Linked DNA regions of Homo sapiens. The protein of the gene in region 1 interacts with the protein of each later gene in a biochemical or structural test. Each region holds a gene or a part of one and is shown in the gene's direction. Other genes may lie near its edges.

The links.
Region 2: the proteins of HERC3 (region 1) and EIF5A2 form a complex in vitro, tested with the Homo sapiens proteins (one study listed by BioGRID).

Annotation. Positions count from the first base shown.
Region 1 is NC_000004.12:88,592,506-88,604,090, forward strand, and holds part of HERC3 (probable E3 ubiquitin-protein ligase HERC3), read left to right. Parts: 5' UTR 1-69; intron 70-3,051; 5' UTR 3,052-3,109; intron 3,110-5,444; exon of another isoform or gene 5,445-5,582; intron 5,583-11,585. UniProt on the Homo sapiens protein: E3 ubiquitin-protein ligase which accepts ubiquitin from an E2 ubiquitin-conjugating enzyme in the form of a thioester and then directly transfers the ubiquitin to targeted substrates.
Region 2 is NC_000003.12:170,904,011-170,915,451, reverse strand, and holds the start of EIF5A2 (eukaryotic translation initiation factor 5A-2), read left to right. Parts: upstream 1-6,814; 5' UTR 6,815-6,909; intron 6,910-7,610; 5' UTR 7,611-7,645; coding exon 7,646-7,810; intron 7,811-8,358; coding exon 8,359-8,463; intron 8,464-11,441. UniProt on the Homo sapiens protein: Translation factor that promotes translation elongation and termination, particularly upon ribosome stalling at specific amino acid sequence contexts.

The DNA of each region.
Region 1 (11,585 bases):
GAAACCCCGGGTCCGGCGAGAGGGGCTGTGACAGTCGGAGTCCCAAGCTGCGGTTCGGCTGCTGCCGAGGTGCGCAGGGCGGGGGCCGGGGTTCCAGGGAGGGGGGTACGGCGGAGCTGCAGCCGCGCTGGGCCGCGTTCCGCCTGGCACTGCAGTCAGCGCGCGGCTCCCGGAGGGGCGGCTGCGGCTCCTCCCGTGGCTCCGGCGGCGGGGGCTGCAGGCACCTCCAGAGACGACCTGGGTCTGGGGCGCGGGGAGGTTGGGGCGCGGCGCCCTTAGTACCCTGCGTACGCCTCCCTGGCGTTCTCGTGGGCTCGCCCTCCGGTCAGAGAGCCCCGCGCCGGGAAAGGCGAGACAAGCCTTCAAAATGGGAGCGCCTCCCGCCCGCGCTCGGCCGCCCTCCCGCCCTGCCGCCCGGGAGGAATTGCGACGCAGAAAGTCAAAAGGAGGATAGTCCCTATGCTCGCCCCCTGCCCCTATTTAAATTCTGGGGTTCCAGGGACCTCCGTGCAGTGAGGGGCGCGGACGCTTTCAATTGAAATGGGAGCTGGCGAGGCCCTGGCATTTTGGGGAACCTCAGCGGCCGCGAGGAGTTTGCGCCGAGGACGCGGTGCACGGCGTCCGCGATGACAGCGCCGGCAGGGCTGCGGGGCCCGGCACCACCCACTTCGCGGAGGCCGGGCCGGCTCGCCTCTCCCGGGTCCGCCTCCTGGGCGGGGCCGGGGGCGAGGGTGTGTGCGGACACGTGTGTACGGGTGTGTGTGTGTGTGTACGCCGACACGTCGGTGCGGACCGACGCGGGGGTGTCAGGAGCTGGGACGGCCGGGGGCAGGTGAGACTTGAGTCATTTGTGAATGTGTGGAGTGGGCAAACCAGGGCAACCAGACCGAGAGGAGCATGTGTAACCTGAAACAGGTGAGCCTATGGAGACAGTACCTAATGCGACTGTGCACGGAATATGTGTATGCAGCATGAGCTCCAGGGAATAAGTATTTGAACTTTGCTGTTGGTCTGTCACTGTTTCTGGCTGCTTTCTGATTGCATTTTACATCAGCTTTCAAATGAGCTCAATTAGGAAGTACCTAATTCAGAGAAAAGCCTTCCAGGATTTTGCTTGCATTCATCACGCATAGAATGCTTTGGGAAAGACGATTCAAGAGCTCTCTTCCATTTGTATGTGTCTTCTGGCTCTTTCCACAAATAAGAAGCTATTTCTAGAACCTTTTATTTGATGATTAGATAAGATCAAGTGAGCTGATTTTTCAACTCTAGACTTGAGAGAAATGAAAAAATAAAAAGTTTTAAATGCGGTGATCGGGTATCATGTTTTAGTCGGCAGATTACTGTGAAGCTCTCTCCTTTTGTACTTTCCTTTACCCTGGGGGAGGAGGGAGTAGCATTATAAATCAGAAAAGCAAAGTACATGGATTGCATATCCTAAAGCAAAATAATTGAATTACATATTTTACATCATGGTCGTACCGCCTTCGAGGCTAGGAACTTTCTGTAAAAAGTATAATGCAGGGAACAAGGAGGACAGGTTAGAAACCTCTTTGGCAGAACTCCTTTGGCATGAAAAACAAAATTAGCACATTAGCACTAGCATCCAGTTCTTGTTCAGTAAGTAGCTGGAGTTTACTTTTTGAAAAAGAAACAGGGATTTCAGAATGTTCCATGTTGTGTGCTTGAAGCCATTCGTTATAGCATTTCATTCTGAAGACCAAATTTAAATTTCTTAAGATTTGTATGACCAATTAAAAACTTTTTTTATACTTAATGAGAGTAGTAGTACCCCTACTGGAGACACAAGATAGTTATGCTTCAGTTTTATAAGTAAAAGTACTATTCTCCAGATCGAATGGGATTTTCTGCATAGAGAGGTAGAAATAAAGTTATGACAATATCTTTTCTTTCGAGATGGGGGGTCTCGCTCTGTTGCACAGGCTGGAGTGCACTGGTGCGATCTCGGCTCACTGCAACCTCCGCCTCCCAGGCTCAAGCGAATCTGCCACCTTACCCTCCAAAGTAGCTGGGACCACAGGCGTGCACCACCATGCCCAGCTAATTTTTTGTAGTTTTTGGTTTCGCCAAAAGACGAAACGGGGTTTTGCCATGTTGCTCAGGCTGATCTCCAACCCCTGGGCTCAGGCTGTCCACCCGCCTGGGCCTCCTAAAGTGCTTGACAAAAATATCTTAAAATCATGGAGGACTTTTTCTTTTGAGATACTTTAGGTATCTCTCTGAGATGATCTCTTCTCATTTTGCATGATGGAGGATGTGGTAATGAAAAGGGAAAGACCGGGTGCAGTGACTGGCTGGGCGCAGTGGCTCACACCTGTAATCCCAGCACTTTGGGCGGCTTGAGACGGGTGGATCACTTGAGGTCAGGAGTTGGAGACCAGCCTGACCAACATGGTGAAACCCCTTCTCTACTAAAAATAGAAAAATTAGCTGGGCGTGGTGGCGGGCGCCTGTAATTCCAGCTACTTGGGAGGCTGAGGCAGGAGAATCGCTTGAACCTGGGAGGCAGAGGTTGCAGTGAGCCGAGATCGGCCACTGCACTCCAGCCTGGGTGAAAGAGCCAGACTCTGTCTCAAAAAAAAAAAAAAAAAAAAAAAGAAAAGGAATGAAAGGAGACAGTCTTCATAACAGTTGTGGCAAAACAAGCTGCTATGTGTCATACATGGAAAAATAAAGAAAATAGACAAAATTTAATTATTTTCCAAAATTTTCTCTAACAAAAATGGGAGATTTTAAAGTAATTCCATTTTTACTACTCCCTATCAAATGTCAGGAATTTTTATAAGGTGATATCTATATCTCTAGTTCACTTTTAGAGGTGATTGATGTCTTTATAACTGGTTAGAGGTTATCTTACTGGTATTTAACCAAACTCCTGTCTTGAGATACAATGCGTGGGGAATATTCAAGATTGAGTAATTTAAAGATATTCTTATTTTCAGAGGTTAACTCCTGTCTTTTTGTTTACAGTAACATGAAGACACAACAGAGTTCCATACTAATGTTATTTATTATTTCTTTAACTTGCAGAACTGCAAGGTGTGGAATATTTCTGGCTTCTAGTCCAATGCCAAGTGTGTGACCTGTGGTGAGTTACTTAATTTTTCTGGACCTCAGTTTTTCATCTTGTAAATGGAGTCCTTTACATGCATTATCCTGTTTAATACTCTCATCAACTCAAGCTAGGGTAGCTACCTAGAGAGGGACCTAAACAAATCTCAGTGCCTTCCTGCTGCTCTAAGATAGTGAAGAGAACAAGGTGAGCCCAAGAAGTAGGAGACCTGGTTTCTGGTCTCTGCTTCAAGCACTTAATTCTTTTTTTTTTTTTTTTTTTTTTTTTTTGAGAGGGAGTCTGGCTGTCGCCCACGCTGGAGTGCAGTGGCGGGATCTCGGCTCACTGCAGGCTCCGCCCCCCGGGGTTCATGCCATTCTCCTGCCTCAGCCTCCCGAGTAGCTGGGACTACAGGTGCCCACCACCTCGCCCAGCTAATTTTTTGTATTTTTAGTAGAGACGGGGTTTCACTGTGTTAGCCAGGATGGTCTTGATCTCCTGACCTCGTGATCCGCCTGCCTCGGCCTTCCAAAGTGTTAGGATTACAGGCGTGAGCCACCGCGCCTGGCCAAGCACTTAATTCTTAGTGGACCAAAGTTACTTGGCCTCTGAAGGCCTTAGCTGCCATTAAAATGAATTTAGGAATGTAAGTCTTTTGCTTAGAGGTTAGATCAAATGGACTTTTAATAAGGTGGTAAATTTGATAATATAACTCTGTCCCCTTTAGACATTTACTCCATTTAGAAATAGTACTTGTTGGTGGCAGGGACATGTGTTTCTGTGTAAGTGAACTGGTTTTATTATTACTCAGGGTGGGGGATCTTTAACATTATCTGGAAAATAAAAGTGGTTACAAGTTGAGGTGGTGGAAATTCAGGTTTTCTAAGAATGGGGGTCAGTTCACTAGGCATTTATCAAGCCTCTGCTGTGCTCTTGTACTCTGCTGAGAATGGAAGGCACAAAGATGAGTAAAACCTGGTTCCTTCATGGAGAAACTCCCAGTCTGCACGTTGGCAGGGTGTTAGTGGAGGAGGTAGGAGAAGCAGCCATACTGCCTCAACAGCGCTTTGCATTTTTGTTTGTTTTGTGAAGTATTTGTAAGCATAAAATAATGCATGTCATATATGTTAAGAAACAACAATAAAAGGACAGAAGCAGAATATCAGCCATGCTATTGAAATGTCTCCCTTTGTGCTCCTTCCAGATTGTTCCCTCTATTCCTACTGCCTCCACAATCATTACCCGCTATTTTGTGTTTGTGATTTGCTTTTCTTCATAGCTTTGTTACCACTGATGATTCTTAATCTCCAAATAATATATTTGTTATAGTTGTGTTTGAATTTTGTAAAAATGCATCATACTCTGAATTCTTCTGTGACTCAACACTTTTTAAGATTTAGTTACAATGATGCTTATAGATGGAGTTTATTTTTTACTGCTGTACAGTGTTCTGTTTTATGCATGTGCCACACTATCTGTTTTCTTATTGATGGATATTTGTTTTTTGTTTTTTTCCTATTTCAAATAATGCTGGAATGAACATTCTTATACGTGTATCTTGGTGCATATGTTCATGAGTTTCTCACTGCATTGGACTGTAAGATAGCCACTAGTCACCTAGGGCTACTTACATTAAAATTTATTAAAATAAAATATTAACTATTTCAGTTCTTCACTTGTATTAGTCACATTTCAAGTACTCAATAGCCACATATACCTACTGGCTACCATAGTGGACAGTGCAAATATATAGCATTTCCATTATCACAGAAAGTTCCAAGTTTCCAGATTTTACTCATCTTTGTATCTCCATTTATTAGTATAGTACAGGAGCACCATAGATGCTTAATAAGTTGGATAATGCTGGTCATATGCCCAGCAGTGAAATTACTGTGTGGGGAGGTATCCACATCTTCATCTTCACTGGAGAATGCCAACTTGTTTTGCCAAGTGCTTATGCCAGTTTATATTCCCACCAGCTGTCTATGAGGGCCCTGGCTGTTGTATATCCTTGACTTGGTATTGTTAGACTTTTCAATTCTTGCCAGTCTCGTTGGTGTCTTTTGAAGGCAGTCCACAGCTTAAGCAGACTGCAGAGAAGTCATTCTTCCAGCTTCACAAAGCCTAGCACCAGGTAGTGAAGAAGGCACCACCTTAGAGGGGATGATCCGGGGAAGGGTAGGAGTGTTTCCTGTGTTGGCTGAGGGGGTCAGAGGACCAAAGTCCAGCTAAAGTGGAGGAGAGAGAAAACAGCAAGGAGTGGATTCACGTTGTTGAAAACTTCTCTTTGCCTTCTATGACATTTCTGTCTTTGGTAGGAACATTTTTGATAATAAGGCAAGTCATTAAAATGAATCTTCTTTGTTACCAGAGTTAATTCTGCATTTTAGTTTTGGCCCTACATTTATTTAAAGCCTGAATTTGGGGAGTATCTGCAAAGCACTGAAGGTTTTGGACATTGTCTTTTCCTGCTGTTGAAAGAGACCCTCTTCATATATACAACATTCAGGTAATTGCTTCTAAGCTTACTTGAAAGGAAGCTTATCCCTATTTTAAATGAGATTAGAAGTCCTGCCTGAGTGTTATTTTGGTCTCAGTGCCTTTCAAACAAAGGGATAAGAATGAGTTGTTAGGCTGCTGTGTGCATAGTCGCATAGTCTTATCATAAGACAAAGTTTAGGAACTGAAGGTTGTCGTTTAGCATTCAACTCACTAGAGCTAGTAAAAAGAGATTTATCTCCCCACCGCCCTCCACCCATGCCCTCTCCAGAATTTAAAAGCAAATGCACACAAAAAAACTTCCTCCTATCAACCTCAAATCCCTTTCATGAAAGTTATGGCAGATGGTTGTGATGCTACTTTGCTGTAGTGCAGATTTGGCAGAATGCAGCTAGTGCTAATTGCAGTGAGGAAGACAGGAGTCACAATCCCATCCTCTTTTGGGAATTGTCCTGTCTGCTGAAATCTCAAAGAAGAGCACTAGGAGTAGGAGTAACATTGACTAAAGCAGCTGACATTTACTGGTCACTTACTACTACATGCCAGGCACCATGCTAAGCCCTTTTTACATGCATTTTCTCATTAATCCTCACAACACTCTAGCACCTTCTCCTGATTTTGGAGCTTAAGGTGGGTAAACATCTTTCCTCAGGTTTCACAGCTAACGTGGTTAATGTAGGGCTTGGATTTTAGTTCCTTTGACCCTTAAGCTCTGCTAAGATTATCTTGAATCTCTTACCAAGAATAGATGAGAAGGACTCAGGAAAGTGCCAGGTTGACATTGAGAGAAAGTTGTACTTCAAAAGTAGTCCTTCCTTTTGTTTTGTCATGGGGAAATAAGAGGCAGGAAATGCAGCCAAGCGGGGCTGGTGTAGGTGCTGAGGGAAGTGTAGTCCTATATTTTGCAGCGAATTTCATAATTGTGTATTTTGAAGGAAAATAAAAGATTCTGCTCTTCTAGGAGCAAGCAAGAGAGTGAATGAGGAAAAATGGGTGTAAGGACCTTGGAGATCAAAATGCCCAGCGATGCAGACCGTTGCTGAAACTAGACCTTTAAAGTCATGGACATCAGCAGCTACAAGATTTAGGGGTCCAACTGGAGTGTACTTTGAAGTGAAAGCTGTGCTAATGGCTGGCTTCTCTCCAATGTGTTGAACTTCTCTCCTGAAAGCTAGATGATTTTAGTTGCTTTTTTCTTTAGTTCCGGCAGAGCATTGTGATGACCTAGGCCGTATTTATAGTTAGGATTGATAGTTTATTTACAGATACACATCTTTTTTGTGGTTGCTATTTAATTCTCTTGGTGGGCAGTTTTTATTTGACCAATTGAAGATTCCATTACTGTAACTCAGTTGGAAGAATTTTTGAAGTTTTCTTGAACAATAGTCCTTTTTATTATCTTTTTTCATAAATTGTTTTTACTAGTCAGTCAGGGATGAGGCCATACTTCAGGCTGTTTACACAGGATTGTGCTTGGCCAAAGCACCCAGAACTCAGATGACTCTCAAGGACTGACTCGTGCCAGATAAACTACAAAAAAAGCTGATAGACCCAGGACGCCAAATTAATAATGAGAATTAGAAATCCTAATAAGACTGAGATGCTTTGGTTACCTGGTCACAGTATTCTATCCCTGTAGTAGAATCTGCCCTAGAAACCAAGTTATTTAAGGTTGCTTGCTAAGCAAGGCAATTGGTTGGGTGAATTTAGTGACAACTGTTATGGAATCTGATCCACCCATCCACTTTTAGGAAAGAATTACTTAGCGGGTCAGATAGCCAGGTTGACTGATCAGGGTCCCTGTTTTCTCTGGAGAGTGGTGCAGACACATTGGGAAGTCTGGCCTTTTGGTTATCTACTTTCTAAGCTCCTTACTATACAGCACAGCATAGTGTCTCTTTCTTTTCCTTTACTTCATCTTTTTTTTGTTAGTTTCACTTTCTTCATCTGTAAATTAGAGATAATGGCAGTACCTGTCTCATAGAAGATGAAATGAGCCAACATCTGTGAAGCACATAGAAAAGTACCAGACTCAGAGTAAGCTCAAATCAGGTCTTATCTGCTGTTATTATTAATAATGTCATTATTAATATTATCAGTCAGGAGTTTCTTTTTATTGCAAGTGAAAGAAACCTGATTCAAACAAGCATAAATAAATAAGCTTAAGTAAACAAAGAAGGGACTTGTTATACTCTGTATATAGTTAGGTTCTGTAAAGTCATGGTGAATACCATATTAGTGAATACAGAGCCATTGTTTCTGAGGAAATACAGGATTAGGTTCTTGTAGGCTGTGGTCAAGAGATTTTTATCAGCCAGCTGACGCATAACCTTTTTTTATGTGTGTTTCTGTCTAGACAGCCTATTTAATATATATTTCTTACTAATATACACAATATTTCTTGGTAATAAAACACTAGTTGAGAAGGGTTTAACATTTTCTTGACCCTGTGTAATGTGACAGTGTTTTTGGCTTTCAGCCTCACATCAGTGCTATCCACTGTGATTTTTATTTTTTATGGGTTGTCATCTCATGAATCCACAGATTTAATTGCTTTTCCATTGTATCTATAGCTTCATTATGTACTCTGGATATTACTTTAGCTCTCTCCAGGGGAGGCCTCACATACAGATCAGCAGATTTCCTGTTCCATATTTTGGATGTACCCGCTTGTTGATTCATTAACATTGAACTCACAGCCAACACTATAACTCATGCATGAAAGAAACTTACCTAATACACATTTTTTTCTCTGTAAGGCACATCACAACCTTCTTGCACCTAAGAACACTAGAAGGTAGGAGAGATAAGACAAATTTATGAAATACTAAAAACGAAAAAATCCATTAATGTGGATAATAGCAATTGAGCAAGTTGGGAAAAATAAATTATTTCTAGATTATGTGAGCTTGCTGGTCTATTAGTGTATCATTAGACCACCAACCACCACCACCACTACCCTGCCAGTTTTTCATTTTATTTCTACTTCCCTCTCCACAATATTTGTAGTTAATTCAAAGAATAACATTTAATCTTAATACTTTTTTAGTGTAGAGTCTAGACAAGGAATAAAAATCTTGGGAAGAAGCAGAACTTTCTGTGTAAGACAGCAAATTGAGATTCAGTTTTATATTTTATTTTGGGCCTTTTCATGCCTTTCCTGAAAGCCTCAAGAGTTCAAAGCATACCTCAGGATTACAATAAGGCAGTTTTAAAATTGGTATATACCAATTAAGGCCATTGAGTTAAATCCAAAGTACTGTAATTGTTGTCAAGAGAGGTTGAAAGTACGAGCTTCCTCTGTGTTGTAATCTTTAATTTGTAGCCATTTGGGCATGCTTTTATCTTGGGAGAAAAGAGTTTGTCATTTTAAAAGCTGACTTTGCATAGAAGAGCCAATTAGCTGTCTCCTTCATATGTTGACAGTTCTCTCCTGTAGATTGGCTGATATATTCAGCTTTGATGTGTTCGCCTAGTATTATAATTCAAAGTAAGTCTTCACCATTTCTGTTAGAATCCATCCTCTTTTCATTAGGATGAAATGAATGTACCAATGAAAAGATTAGGGAAGACACCTTTGAAGTCTGCAATCTTGTCTTGAAATCCTGATATTTTGACCTGTAGGACCTAGAACAGTGATTCTTAATATGGAGAGACTAGCATGTTTAAGAAGTATGATTAGAAAAGGATATTCAGGGGCCGGGCGCGGTGGCTTACGCCTGTAATCCCAGCACTTTGGGAGGCCGAGGCGGGCGGATCACGAGGTCAGGAGATCGAGACCATCCCGGCTAAAACGGTGAAACCCCGTCTCTACTAAAAATACAAAAAATTAGCCGGGCGTAGTGGCGGGCGCCTGTAGTCCCAGCTACTTGGGAGGCTGAGGCAGGAGAATGGCGTGAACCCGGGAGGCGGAGCTTGCAGTGAGCCGAGATCCCGCCACTGCACTCCAGCCTGGGCGACAGAGCGAGACTCCGTCTCAAAAAAAAAAAAAAAAAAGAAAAGGATATTCAGAATTATAATTAAAATGTATATTTGGAAACCGGCTGGGCTCCGTGGCTCACACCTGTGATCCAAGCACTTTGGGAGGCCAAGGCGGGCTAATTACTTGAGGTCAGGAGTTCAAGACCAGCCTGCCCAACATGGCGAAACCCTGTCTCTACTAAAATACCAAAAAAATAGTGGGGTGTGGTGGCACACGCCTGTAATCCCAGCTACTTGAGAGACTGAGGCAGGAGAATTACTTGAACCTGTGAGGCGTAGGTTGCAGTGAGCTGAGATTGCGCCACTGCACTCCAGCCTGGGAGACAGAGCGAGACTTGGTCTCCAAAAAAAAAAAAAAAAAAAAAAAAGTATGTTTGGAAACTGAAATGTAATCTGAATGTCCTTAAGACCAATCTTCTGCATTGCTTGTTTGTTTTTAAGATGGGTCTCGCTCTATTACCCAGGCTGGAGTGCAGCAGTGCGATCACAGCTCACTGAAACCTTGACCTCCTAGGCTCAAACGATCCTCTCACCCCAGCACCCCAAGTAGCTGGGACTACAGGTGTGTCCTACCACACTTGGCTGATTTTATTTTATTTTTTGTGGAGATAAGGTCTCACTGTGTTGCCCAGGCTGGTCTCAAACTCCTGGGCTTAAGCTGTCCTCTCACCTTGGCCTCCCAAAGTGTTAGGATCACAGGTGTGAGCCACTGTGCCTGGTCACTGTTTTCTTTCATATCCAGATAAAGTGATTCAAACCCAAGGCGATGCTGATTAGAGATTTAGCGTCTTTCTCAAATTTCTAAGAATTTCCGAAGGGAAGAAGAATGTTTAGGTTCTCTTATCATGCCTCATCCAAAACTCTTGCTCAGTTGTCAGTCTTCAGGAGGGGCTCTGAGGGCTTATTTTCAAGGTTCTTTTTATTCATGCTTGGCAAAATACAGTTATTGTAAGGGTGTTGTGTCTTAACTTTGATAGAAGGTTTGGGATTCTCAAAAGTAGTTACAGAACAGGCAACAAGTTCAAACTTGAGTGTTAGACACCACTGTTCTCAAAATTCATCTGCTGTTCTCTGCCACGGAGAATCTACTGTTTACTGGCCAGGTTCCAAACTTGCAGCCATATTACAGGCTTCAATCGCTTTCTCTTTTTTTTTTTTTTTTTTTTGAGGTGGAGTTTTGCTCTTGTTGCCCAGGCTGGAGTGCAGTGGCGCCATCTTGGCTCACTGCAACCTCTGCCTCCTGGGTTCAAGCGATTCTTGTGCCTCAGCCTCCCGAGTAGCTGGGATTATGGGCACCCGCCACCACGCCCCACTAATTTTTGTATTTTTAGTAGAGATGCGGTTTCACCATGTTGGTCAGGCTGGTCTCGAACTCCTTCCTCAGGTGATCCATCTGCCTCAGCCTCCCAAAGTGCTGGGATTACAGGTGTGAGCCACCATGCCCGGCCAATCGCTCTCTCTTAATTTGCTATCTTAAATAGGAGCATCTACTGTTTTATAAGGCATGCTTGGGATTTCCCCCGTCTCCTTTCGTCTCTAAATCTTGGACCTTTCTTTCAAAACCAGAGAGGTGCATGGGGTATTTTCCTTGACAGAAGATCCACCCACTTAAGATTTCCAACTTTATCAATAGTCAGAACTTTTGAAGTTATAATATTTCATTTCTGATCAAAGCATTAGATAAAGCTTCCCCTCTTATGTCTTTGTAAGCAAAAATAATATATTGAAATAATTGATACCTTTCCCATATTAAACTCTAGGGGTTGTTCCCTCCTCCTTTCTGTTGTAGAAAAAATACTTTTGTGCCTATTATGTTGGTAATAACAATTCTCACAATTAAACTCAAGAAAGCCTTGTTGGCTGATGTGGACCTGCAGAGGCAGTAGACATGTAGCAAGAGAAAGGAAATTTAAAGACAATTAAAAAATCTTTACTGAGATATAATTCACATACCATAAAATTTACTTTTTTTTTTTTTTGATACTGAATTTTGCTCTTATTGCCCAAGCTGGAGTGCAATGGCGTGACCTCA
Region 2 (11,441 bases), on another chromosome or scaffold:
TGTCGAGATGCCCAGAGCTGCTTGATTCCTTTCTACATAGTTTTTCCTTCTTTCTCTCAATTGTGGCAGCTCCTTCATACTATTTCGTAAAATTCCCTTTTTGCTTAACTTTTTAAAAATTTGTTTCTTTTGCTTGCAACCAAGAACCCTAACTAATCTACCAGAGAGTTGTAGCCCATACATTATCCTGCAAATATGGTTATTAAGAATTGGATAGAGCCAAGATGGGATAGAAGATCGTTAATTCTAAGTTCAAATTACAAAAGCAGAACATAGTAGTCTATGTTATGCAGTGGTGAAACCGCTCAACAAATTATCTCTTAGGCTGCATGGCCACTGAAAATGAAGCTCTAACTGAATGAAACTGGTAACTGCTGCCACTCAACAATTTAAAGAGTTTAAAGGATGAGAAAAGTTTTAGGACTTTGGGGGTGAGCTGACTACTTCAGACAGGATTGGGTAACTTAAACCATGAGAAATGTGTTCCCTAAATTTCATCTTAGAACAAGAAAAAAATACTGACTCATAGGCTAAGATTTCTTTGAAACAAATTTAAGAGTTTGAATCTGTGCATTGCTGGTCTCATTTGTAAACATTAGGCAACTGATAAGGGAAAGCTCTACAAGGAAAATGGGGACATCTATGTACTTCAACTTCTAAGGTGAAGTACTCCAAACCTCCAAATCCTCTGTAAACGCTATCAACAACACATAATCTGACAAGGAGTGTTTCTTGTAAACAACTGTATCTGCCTTGCCTGAGGAAACTGTCACTCCCTTGAGGAGGAAGCCATTAATTCCCTTATGCTCCACCCTTCATTGTTACTTAGGCCAGGATCCAATCCCAATTTGGAGACTGAAAGTCAAATTAAACTACCTGAAATTGAAATTAAACTACCTGACAGTGAAAGTTTGGCCACAAAATGAGTTACAGGCATTTGTTGATTTATACGGTCAAAAATACTAAAATTATTTTAGAAACGGAGGGTGCTCAACCGTAGAGATCAGATCAATAAAATTAAATCAGGCTTAATTTGCTGATGTAGGTATATGTGTCATTGTATTTTTGTGCAGCTATGTCAGACAGTTTGCTGGTTTGGTTAATGCTATTCTAAATCCAGTGCTATTCCATTTAAAAAGAAGTCAACATGGTCGAACCTCCTTTATATAAAGCAGAGTGTGAAAGGAAAATAAATCTCACCAAGCGAAAGGGAAAAGTCAAGCTGGAAACTGCATCAGGCAAACCTGCTTCCCATTTTATTCCTAAATAAGATAGCTACAAAGATAAAAAAGCTACAAACCTCCCTCACAATTTGCCCCCAAGAAAATTCCTCGTGGACCTCATGATCTTTACCCTAAAACAGTTCTGCTGATTTTCACCCTGGCAAAGTAAATTGATAGCTTATCCTCACAGGTGAGGGACAAAAAACAGAACTTAAAGTCATCCCTCTGCTCAACTGAGACAAATACTTATCTGATTGCTTCCTAGGCCCTACTGTTCATGTAAAAACGAAGATTCACTGAGCCACTCTAAGGCATAAATAACTATTCCTCTAAACTCCTCTCACATGTAAATTGTGTACTCAGTGAAAGGTTGATTAAAGACTCAGAAGAATGCAACCATTTGTCTTTTATCTACCTATGACCTGGAAGCCCCACCCCACCACCAACCCCACCCGACTTTGAGCTGTCCTGTCTTTTCAGACTGAAACAATGTACGACTTACATGTATTGACTGACATTTCAAGTCTCCCAAAAATGTATAAAATCAGCAGGGCGCGGTGGCTCACGCCTGTAATCCCAGCACTTTGGGAGGCCGAGGCGGGTGGATTACAAGGTCAGGAGATCGAGACCATCCTGGCTAACATGGTGAAACCCCGTCTCTACTAAAAGTACAAAAAAATTAGCCAGGCATGGTGGCAAGCGCCTGTAGTCCCAGCTACTGGGGAGGCTGAGGCAGGAGAATGGCGTGAACCCGGGAGGCGGAGCTTGCAGTGAGCCCAGATCGTGCCACTGCACTCCAGCCTGAGCGACAGAGTGAGACTCCATCTCAAAAAAAAAAAAAATGTATAAAATCAAGCTGTACCTTGACCACCTTGGTTACATGTCATTAGGACCGCCTGAAGCTGTATCACAGGTGCATCCTTAACCTTGGCAAAATAAACTTTCTAAATTGATTGAGATCTGTCCCAGATACTTTTGGTTTGCAAGAGGTAGAAACAGGACTATTGGAGCAAGGCGCCTTGTCAAGGGGTGGACAGGAAATGAACGCTAGAGCAACCAGAATTTCATCTTCCAGAACTTTAACTCTTAGACTTTGTATTAACACTTGTAGGTTGTTAATTCTAACAGCATCAGATGAGACTATACAATGGTTCTTGCTACAGAAACTCTAAAGTTGCACAGTTTCTGTCCTTTCAGGCTTCCTTTCAAACCTGTAGTTATTCCATATCATTCCTATAAAGACGTGCTTTTTACTTAAATTGGTAGGAACTGTTTTCTGTCGCTTGTAACCAAAAAACCCTAAGAAATACAATGTTCTTTCTCATTCTCCTCTTCCACTGGTGATCCTTTAAATAGCACAGGGCTCTATTTTTCACTCCTCTTTTTTCATTGCGCATTCTTCCTCTAAATATTCCACTTTCATAGCTTTAATCATCACCTATATACTGATTCATAAACATGTATCTCTACTTCAGATAGTTCCCTTTCCCATAGGAACCTTAAACTTGATCTGCCCAAAAGTGAACTCGACTTTCCTCACAAACTGTTTCTCCTCTATTTTCTATCTCAATGAAAATTCACCACCATTCACCCAGATTTTTACACCATAAACTGTTGAGTCTTAATTTGACTCTTTTCTGTTCTTCGTACTCTGTGCCTCCCCATTTTGACCCTTAACATTCAATTAATTATGACATTTTTTCCATTTTCCCTTATAACTCTGCAATCTTCTCATTCATCATGTTTGTTCAACATTATTATGTCTAATTGATTTCCTACTTCCAATATTTTCTCCTCCTAAAAAATACTCCATATCACAACTAGAATAGTCTAAATTAAAAAAAAAAAAAAAAAAAGGCCAGGCACAGTGGCTTACACCTGTAATCCCAGCACTTTGGGAGGCTGAGGCAGGCAGATCATAAGGTCAGGAGATTAAGACCATTCTGGCTAACATGGTGAAACCCCGTTTCTACTAAAAATACATAAAAAAAAAAAAATTAGCCAGGCGTAGTGGCAGGCACCTATACTCCCAGCTACTCGGGAGGCTGAGGCAGGAGAATGGCTTGAACCTGGGAGGTGGAGGTTGCAATGAGCCGAGATCACACCACTGCACTCCAGCCTGGAGCAACACAGCGACACTCCATCTCAAAAAAAAATTTAATTAAAAAAATTTAAAAATAATAAAAAATTTATCATTTTCTTGTATGTACTGTCTCAATGCTTCTCTATTGCCCTTGGGAGAAAGTCCGAATTCACCCATCTTTACAGTACACACCATCATACTACGCCATTTACAGTACAAATGGTGCCACGATTCTGTCACAATACACCTCTGTAACCCCATTTCCTTTGCCTAAAGTGCCCTTTCTAAACTCCTCTCCATTGCTAACTTCTATTTGTCTTTCAAATCTCAAACTGATATCCCCCGAGAGAAGCAGTTCCTGAACCTTCTAGACCTATGATGCCCAATATGATAGCCACCAACTATGCCTAGTTATTGAGCACTTGAATTATAGCTAGTCTGAATTTAGATGTACTGAAAGTGTAAAATACACCAGATTTTGAAGGCTTAGTATGGATAAAAAGTAAAATATCTTAGTAATATTTTTATATTGGTTACATGTGAAATAATATTTTGGACATATTCAGTTAAACAGAATATACTATTGAAATTAGTTTCATTTTTTAACTTTATGTGTCTAAAAGAAAACTCAAAACTATATGTGGCTTGTATCATATTTTAATTGGACACCACCTAGCCTAAATAAGCCCCTTTTTTCAGTGCCTTATAGTTATTTCTTTACTAGCATTTGTTTCATATTTTAAAATTACTAGACTGTCTTCTGCAATAGACTGCAAGCACCTTAGGAACCAGAGGCTGTCTTGGTCAACACAGTAATACCAGAGGTAAGGCTGCTAAAGTACACATAGTCAATCTTCATTATTTTTGGATTCCATATTTGCAAATTTGCATACTTGACATAATTTACTTATAATCTTAAAATCAATACTTGCAGTGCTTTTGAAGTCATTTGTGAACATGCACAGAGACTCGTGCCATCTAACGCACATTTAGCTGAGGTCAAACTCAGCCATGCTCTGCCTTCTTGTTTCAGTCGTCAAACTGTTAACCAGTATTCTTTTCAGTCTATTTATTGCCAGTTTTTGCATTGTTGTGCTTTTTGTTGGTGATTTCACCATTCAAAATGGCCCCCAAGCACTGTGCTGAAGAGCTGTCTAATGTTCCAAAACACAAGAAAGCTACAGTGTGCCTTACAGAGAGCATATGTTAGATAAGCTACCTTCAGGTATGAATTACATTGCTGTTGGCCATGAGTTTAATGTTAATGAACCAACAATATATAGGAAATCAGGTGTCTTTAAATGGAAACACACTAAAAATCACATATTAACCAATGTTGTGGCCCAGAGGCTCAGAGGAACCTAACCCTGTATTTCCCCTAGGAGCAATGGTTTAGTATTTGCCAATTCAGTGTTCTTACTGACTTCAGGAGAACTGACTGTATTTATTGAATGAGTAATGCTCAGTCATTTGATTCCAAACCCAAATCTTTTGTGAATGCAGTATATGGTGGTAGGTAGAGCAGTGACTCTGGAACCAAACTGCCTAGGTTCCAACCTTGGTTTTCCAACTTACTAGCTTTGTAATCTGGGGCAAATTGCTTTTCTCCTTTTTCCGTAACTAAAAATGCAGGTTAAAAAAGTACTGTTAATATTTGCCAGGGGCTGGGTGTAGAGGGAGGAAACTGAGAACAAAAAGCCACTAGAAAACTTTTGGAATGAGGGAAATATTCCATATCTTGATCATAGCAGATGATCAAGATATGTTTTTCAAAACTCATAAAAAGAAAAGGGACAAATTTTTCTTTATATGAATAACTTAACAAGGTTAAAAATAGAAAGCAGCAGTGACAAACAAAGGAATAATGCACATCAAAAATTTAGTACACTACCTGCCTATATAAATACTAAATACTATTAGCGATCATTGTAAAAACAATAGGGAAAAGTTAGGAGGTATAAGGAAAAGCAGAAAGAGCTAATGAACCAAGATTCTAATCTGGCTCTTTCTTTTTGGGGTGTTGGGGGTGGGGGGGGTGGTCTCACTCTGTCAGCCAGGTTGGAGTACAGTGGCCGGATCTCGGCTCACTGCAGTCTCCACCTCCCAGGCTCAAGTGATCCTCCCACCTCAACCTCCCTAGTAGCTGGGACCACAGGTGCACAGCACCATGCCCAGCTAAGTTTTCGTATTTTTGGTAGAGACGGGGTTTCACGATGCTGCCCAGGCTGATCTCGAACTCCTGAGCTCAGGGAACCCACCTGCCTCAGCCTCCCAACGTGCTGGGATTACAGGCATGAGCCACTGCTGTAATGGCTCCTTTGTATATTAGCTAGAGGCTGAATTCAGTACATGAGAGGGCAGTAACTTATTGCGAAAGTTAAATTGGACCTGTTTGAAAGATATGTGTAAACTGTAGAGTCATACAGGAATGTGAGATATGGGATTATTCATGAGACAGCAATAGGAAATCAAAGTTACCACATAAATGCGGGTGTGGGATGGGAAATAATTTCCTAGATCACCTCCCCAAGATAGGATACTGCGGTAGGTTGCGAAATGAAACTGTGAAGGGGGAGCACATCTCTTTTAAGAACCTTTCTATGGCAGTCTACAAGCTCTAGGTCAATTTTGAAGACCATCCAAGCGTTCTAATGTGCCAGGGTTAAACCCCAAACTCTAAGGAATGCCAATGCCAGGAGGAAAGAATGGATGAGTCGGCAGAACACCTCTCTGGACCCACAATGCCGTAGGAGTCAGACACCCTTCGCCTCCACAACTTCCCAACAGCCTTTGGTGTGAGAAGTGGGTTAATTCATTTCACTGCTGGCTTGTTAGCTGGCGGACGCTTCGGGAGTTCCCACCCCAGGGAGCAGTGCTGACTCTACAGGGGCATCCGGCGGCAGTCGCTGCCAAAAATCTCACCAAGGGGTGAATGGGGGGTCCTCAGGACCTGCGGTGCCGAGCTGGGTAATAAAATACTGCACCTGAATTCTTCTTTAAGGACCAGGAGGAGGTTCGAACCCCAAGAAAGGCTGCAAGCTGAACCAGAAGCTCGAACCCAAAGTTCGCTTCACAGCCAGCCACACTGGCACTCGCTGAATCTGCGCGCCTCGCGAGTTCTGACGATCGTCATGTGATAACTGCCACGCACCTGATGGCAGGGGCCATTGGGTGCTTTGCTTGGTTCCCATTAAAGTCGACTGCGACCCGAACGCAACAAACCTAAGAGTTGGAAGGCGCAAGTTCCTCTGCCAGCGAGCTCACCCTCGGCAACCAGACTGCTGAAAGTGCGCTCCACGCCGGAAGTGCACTAATCCGCAGCACGTGGGGTTGCCAGGGCGCTCTTCACGTGACTGGGCGGAGCCTCGGGAATCTGGTAGCCAATGGTAGCCCGAGAGGGCGGTGCCTGTGACGCTCCGGGGCCTATCCCGGAAATAGGGCTGAGTGGGGGCGGGTAAGGGCGGGGAGGCTGGGGTGTGGAAAGTGTGGCGGCCCCGCCCCGTCTCTTGGAACTGCCGCGGCCGCCACCGCCGCTGCCGGCGCCGCTGCTGTAGGGGACCAGCGCGGGTGCGCAGACGAAAGGCGCTCTTTGCCAGCTGAAAGGTGAAGACCTGGGGAAAAGCTGGTGGGGAAAAGCTGGTGGGGATGGGGCCAGAGTGAGGCAGGGCCGGGGAAGGCGCCCAGAACTGAGCGCTGACCGAGAGAAAGAAGGAGAATGGATGGGGGAACAGAGGCGAGCGCGGGACCCGCCGGGGCTCAGGCCCTAGTGGGGCCGGGCCGGGCCGAGCTGAGCCCTGGATGCCGGCAGAACAGGGGGCGCCTGTGCGGCCGCGGCGGCGACGTTGAAGGGTGGAGGGCGGGGTGCGCGCCAGCTAGCAGAGGGCCGGGTGCTGCTGGCCAGGTTCTGTTACCCCGCATCCTTCGCGGGGACCTGCGGCCTGGGCTGGGTCCCCCGCAGTAGGGTTCGGGGCGGCGGCCGAGGGCTGGGCGGCGGGGGAAGGTCGCCGGCTTCTGCGGTGGGGCGATGGGGGCCGCAACCTGCTGTTTCCAGCACGGAGGAGCGCCCAGGGCGGGTGTCCCCACCCTCAGCGAGCTCCTCTGCGACTTCTCATCCCACCTCCCCAAGCAGTAGCTGGAAAAGTTTGTAGAGGCCAGAGTTAGAAAGTGGCCACTAGTCTAGGGTGGGTGTTCCTTACATGCAGAAATAACGGGCCCATGATGCTTGGCACATAACTTGTCCGAAATGAGACGTTTCCCTGCCTACATACCCGTTGTTAAAAAGCAAACACAAACTTTTTGTGTAGTTCCCACGGAAAAACTACCATCTCCCCTGCCCACCATGGCAGACGAAATTGATTTCACTACTGGAGATGCCGGGGCTTCCAGCACTTACCCTATGCAGTGCTCGGCCTTGCGCAAAAACGGCTTCGTGGTGCTCAAAGGACGACCATGCAAAATAGTGGAGATGTCAACTTCCAAAACTGGAAAGCATGGTCATGCCAAGGTAAGTACCCTTGCAGATCAGGCTTTGGCTTCGGCGTTGGGACTTTGATCATTTGTATTCCGTTACAGATCATGAGATTTCTATACTTAAAATTTTGTAATAAGCACTATTTTTTCCTTCCCACAATTACTGGGTAATCAGTTATTACGTTGAATACTTAAAGGTAGCATTCCCTTCTTGGGCCCTTACAATGTTCATTAACTGGGAACTGAAACTTTCCTGAATCCTAGTGACCTATAAGATCTATTTAGTTTACAGATGAGAAAACCTGTTCTAGCAATTCTAAGAAATCTACACTTTATTTTTCTTGTGTAATCTCATAATTGAATCACTGGTCTATATTGGGTCTTGACATGTCGTGATACTGTTTAGTTGTTTACTGCCTCTTAATTGTAAGACCACTACATTTTTTTTTAAGTAAAATTAGATGACCTTGGAAGGAGGAGAAAAAGAATCTGTTGTAATCAGCATTGGTATTGTGCTCTTGTGTGTGTAATGAGTGATATACTTGGCAGAGATTAAACAGGTTTCCTGTTCTCCTCTGTTAGGTTCACCTTGTTGGAATTGATATTTTCACGGGCAAAAAATATGAAGATATTTGTCCTTCTACTCACAACATGGATGTTCCAAATATTAAGAGAAATGATTATCAAGTAAGCACTGATTTTCTTTAGAATGTTGCTTGTTTCTTCAAGGTGCAAATACTTTGTACTATCAGTAATAATTTGACAAAACCCAAGAGTAGTTTTGTAGGTTTTTCTAACCAATTATTAGGCACCAGCTATCTTAGAAATTGGAGAAATAGTGATGTTTAACACATGTACTTTTCTAGGATTATTGCTAGTTTGCTATTTTTTTCACATTCTTGCATTTTTTAAAAAGTCAAATACTTATTAGTGTTCTCAGGCCAAGTGACTGCATATTGCAATTAAGTCCAATGTTTAGTAAAAGTACTATTCTCTCTGTTGTAAAATATTTCTTGTTCTAATTTAAAACATCCCTCCTGGATGTTTTGTTTCTTTTCACTGATCAGACCTGAGACATTCAAGAAACTACTGAAATTCATGTTCCTACCAAGTTTTTGCATTAATGAATGTTAGTCAGAACTTGACATTCTTAAGTAGAGAAATAAGTTGAAAGCCATAAATATAAAGGATAAAGTACCTGGTCACTGAGTATGGTGAAGAAAACACAAAAACTATATAATTGGTTAAATTATACTTAGTGACCATGCTATGACCTTTTGCTAAATTATGTATGTAAATTTCAAGTTTTAGTTCCAGTTATACATTTGGGTAGGTCATATTTAATGATAGCATTTTGTTGTTTGAAGTATTGATGATAACAAAATAATTGACCTTATAGGATGTGGAAGCTCAGATTACTTATAACTAAAGCTTTTCTTGAAAGTCTTCAATTTCTGTATCAAGCATACCATATATCAAACTCATTTCTGCTCATTTTACATAGTGAAAAATACAAAGTTGACACTGGTATTTGTTTTATCCGACTTAAACTGATTTTTTTCTGTACCCTTTGTTGTATTGTATAAATTTCTTTTAATGTTGCTATCAACTGCACTTACGCAATGATTTCCTTTTGCTGTTTGTCCACATGCAAACATACTTTTTTGTGGTTTTAATCTAGTAAACACTTTTATATTTTCACTTTCCTACTTGTCATAAATGTTTTCTAGGTTGCTTTGAAGTCTTTGTAGAAATTTGAATTGTCTTGCAAGTGGGTTTTTTTAACCAGGTAGATCTGGGTTTGGATCTAGTTCTGTCACTTTCTAGTTGGATGATTTTGGACAAGTTATACACCTTTCTGAGCCTGTTTTCTCATCTACAAAATAGTGATAATAGGAGGATTAAATGAGAAAATGTACCCCATTAAGAACTCCATAAGTAGATACGTACCAAAAAGTGCTGTTCTGTTTCCCCCTTTTCCTATGTAAAAATTCTACTTAATCATTTCATTATTGTTGGAGCACCAACTTTGATGTGGTACATAGTAGGTGCTCGAAAAATATTTGTTAAATGTATATGTGATTACTGAATGTGGTAGAGATAGTACAGCAGGCTAAAGTTGAGCGTAGAATGTTGTCAAAATTGGGTTTCTCTTTTCGTCTTAAAGTATGAAAGCTTTGACTATTCAATATTAATTATATTCAGTAATATTCATTCAATATAGAATGCTTTTGCCTGTTGCATGTTTCAGAAAGATGGTATCAGCAGTTCAGATAATTACTATTATACTATGATAAGGTTAGCCAGTCATTGATTGGAGCTCAAGACTTAAAGGAAAAATTTGGTTTGGGTCCTAGACTAGGATGAGGCAAATGAAGTGAGGGAGGCTCTTGCCTCAGGCACAAAATTTTAAATAAAGACAGAACTAGTAACAATGACAAGCCATATAGGAGCTCAAGGCGCAAAGAAAATTAATTCTGATCCCATCTTTATTTAGAATTTTGGTATTTTATCATAGGATTTTTGCATTAATTCTAATTTTTTAAAATATTGCATTAAAATGCCTATCTGATCACTGAGGTTTTTTTGGTGCCTTCTTTAATTTTGCACCCAAGACAAGTGTCTTACTTCACCCTTGTCCCAACCCTTGGTATGTACTCCGCACTGCAAAGTGGATAAGAGGATGATTTAAGCCAGGCAGGCCTGGTCCTAGTCTTACTTTGGCACTTAATAGCTGTGTGACCTTGGTTGACAAGTTACTTAACCTGTTTTGCTTCCATTTCTTTCTTTATAAAGCAGAGACATAAATAATAACGCCTCATGGGATCATTTTGAGGTTTAATTAGTTAATACAACAACGCCTGGCATAGAAAGTATTCAGTATTTCTCTGCTCTTCATTTTCAAGTCAGCATAGAAAAATAACTTATTTCTGTTAATTGTTTAAAAAACTAGTTCTCCAACCTGGGCAATGTGGTGAGACGCCATCTTTACAAAATACAGAAAAAAAAAAATTAGCGAGGCATGGTGGTGTACACAGCTGTAGTCCCAGCAGACCCAGAGGCTGAGGTGGGAGGATCACTTGAGCCTTGGGAGGTCAAGGCTGCACTAAGCTGTGATCACTCCACTGCACTCTAGCCTGGGCGACAGAGTGGGACCCTGTCTCAAAAACAAAAGTTCTGTGGGCCTTTCTATTTATATTTATTGTGCTATGGTGGTCTTCACTTACCTAACCAAGTGCCTTGATTAAATATCTACTCATTATTTGGCGTGTGTAATCCTTTATGTTTGCTGAATTCAATATTTTGAGTGCCAGTTCGGCAGTTGGCTAAAGAGAAATATGTATTCTGTTCATTATGATAATTAAAAAGTAAACAGGAAACAAAACGTATTAATATTTATAGTTTTAATTTTATGTGTTTTAAAATAAGTTCAGAATGAAAGAAAAATTGTCTCCTAACTTCTCTTTCAAGATTAGCTTGGATTAGAATTGCTCATTTACATTACTTCTCCCAAAAGTAGTTATAGATGTCCGGGACTGAGTGATGTTGAAAATTATAAATGCATCCAGATAGACCTTTGGGAATCCCCAAATTCATACAGAAATGCTTATTCAGACTTTAGCACTCTCTGGAATCATATTTCTTTAGAAAGTTCTGTGTTGATA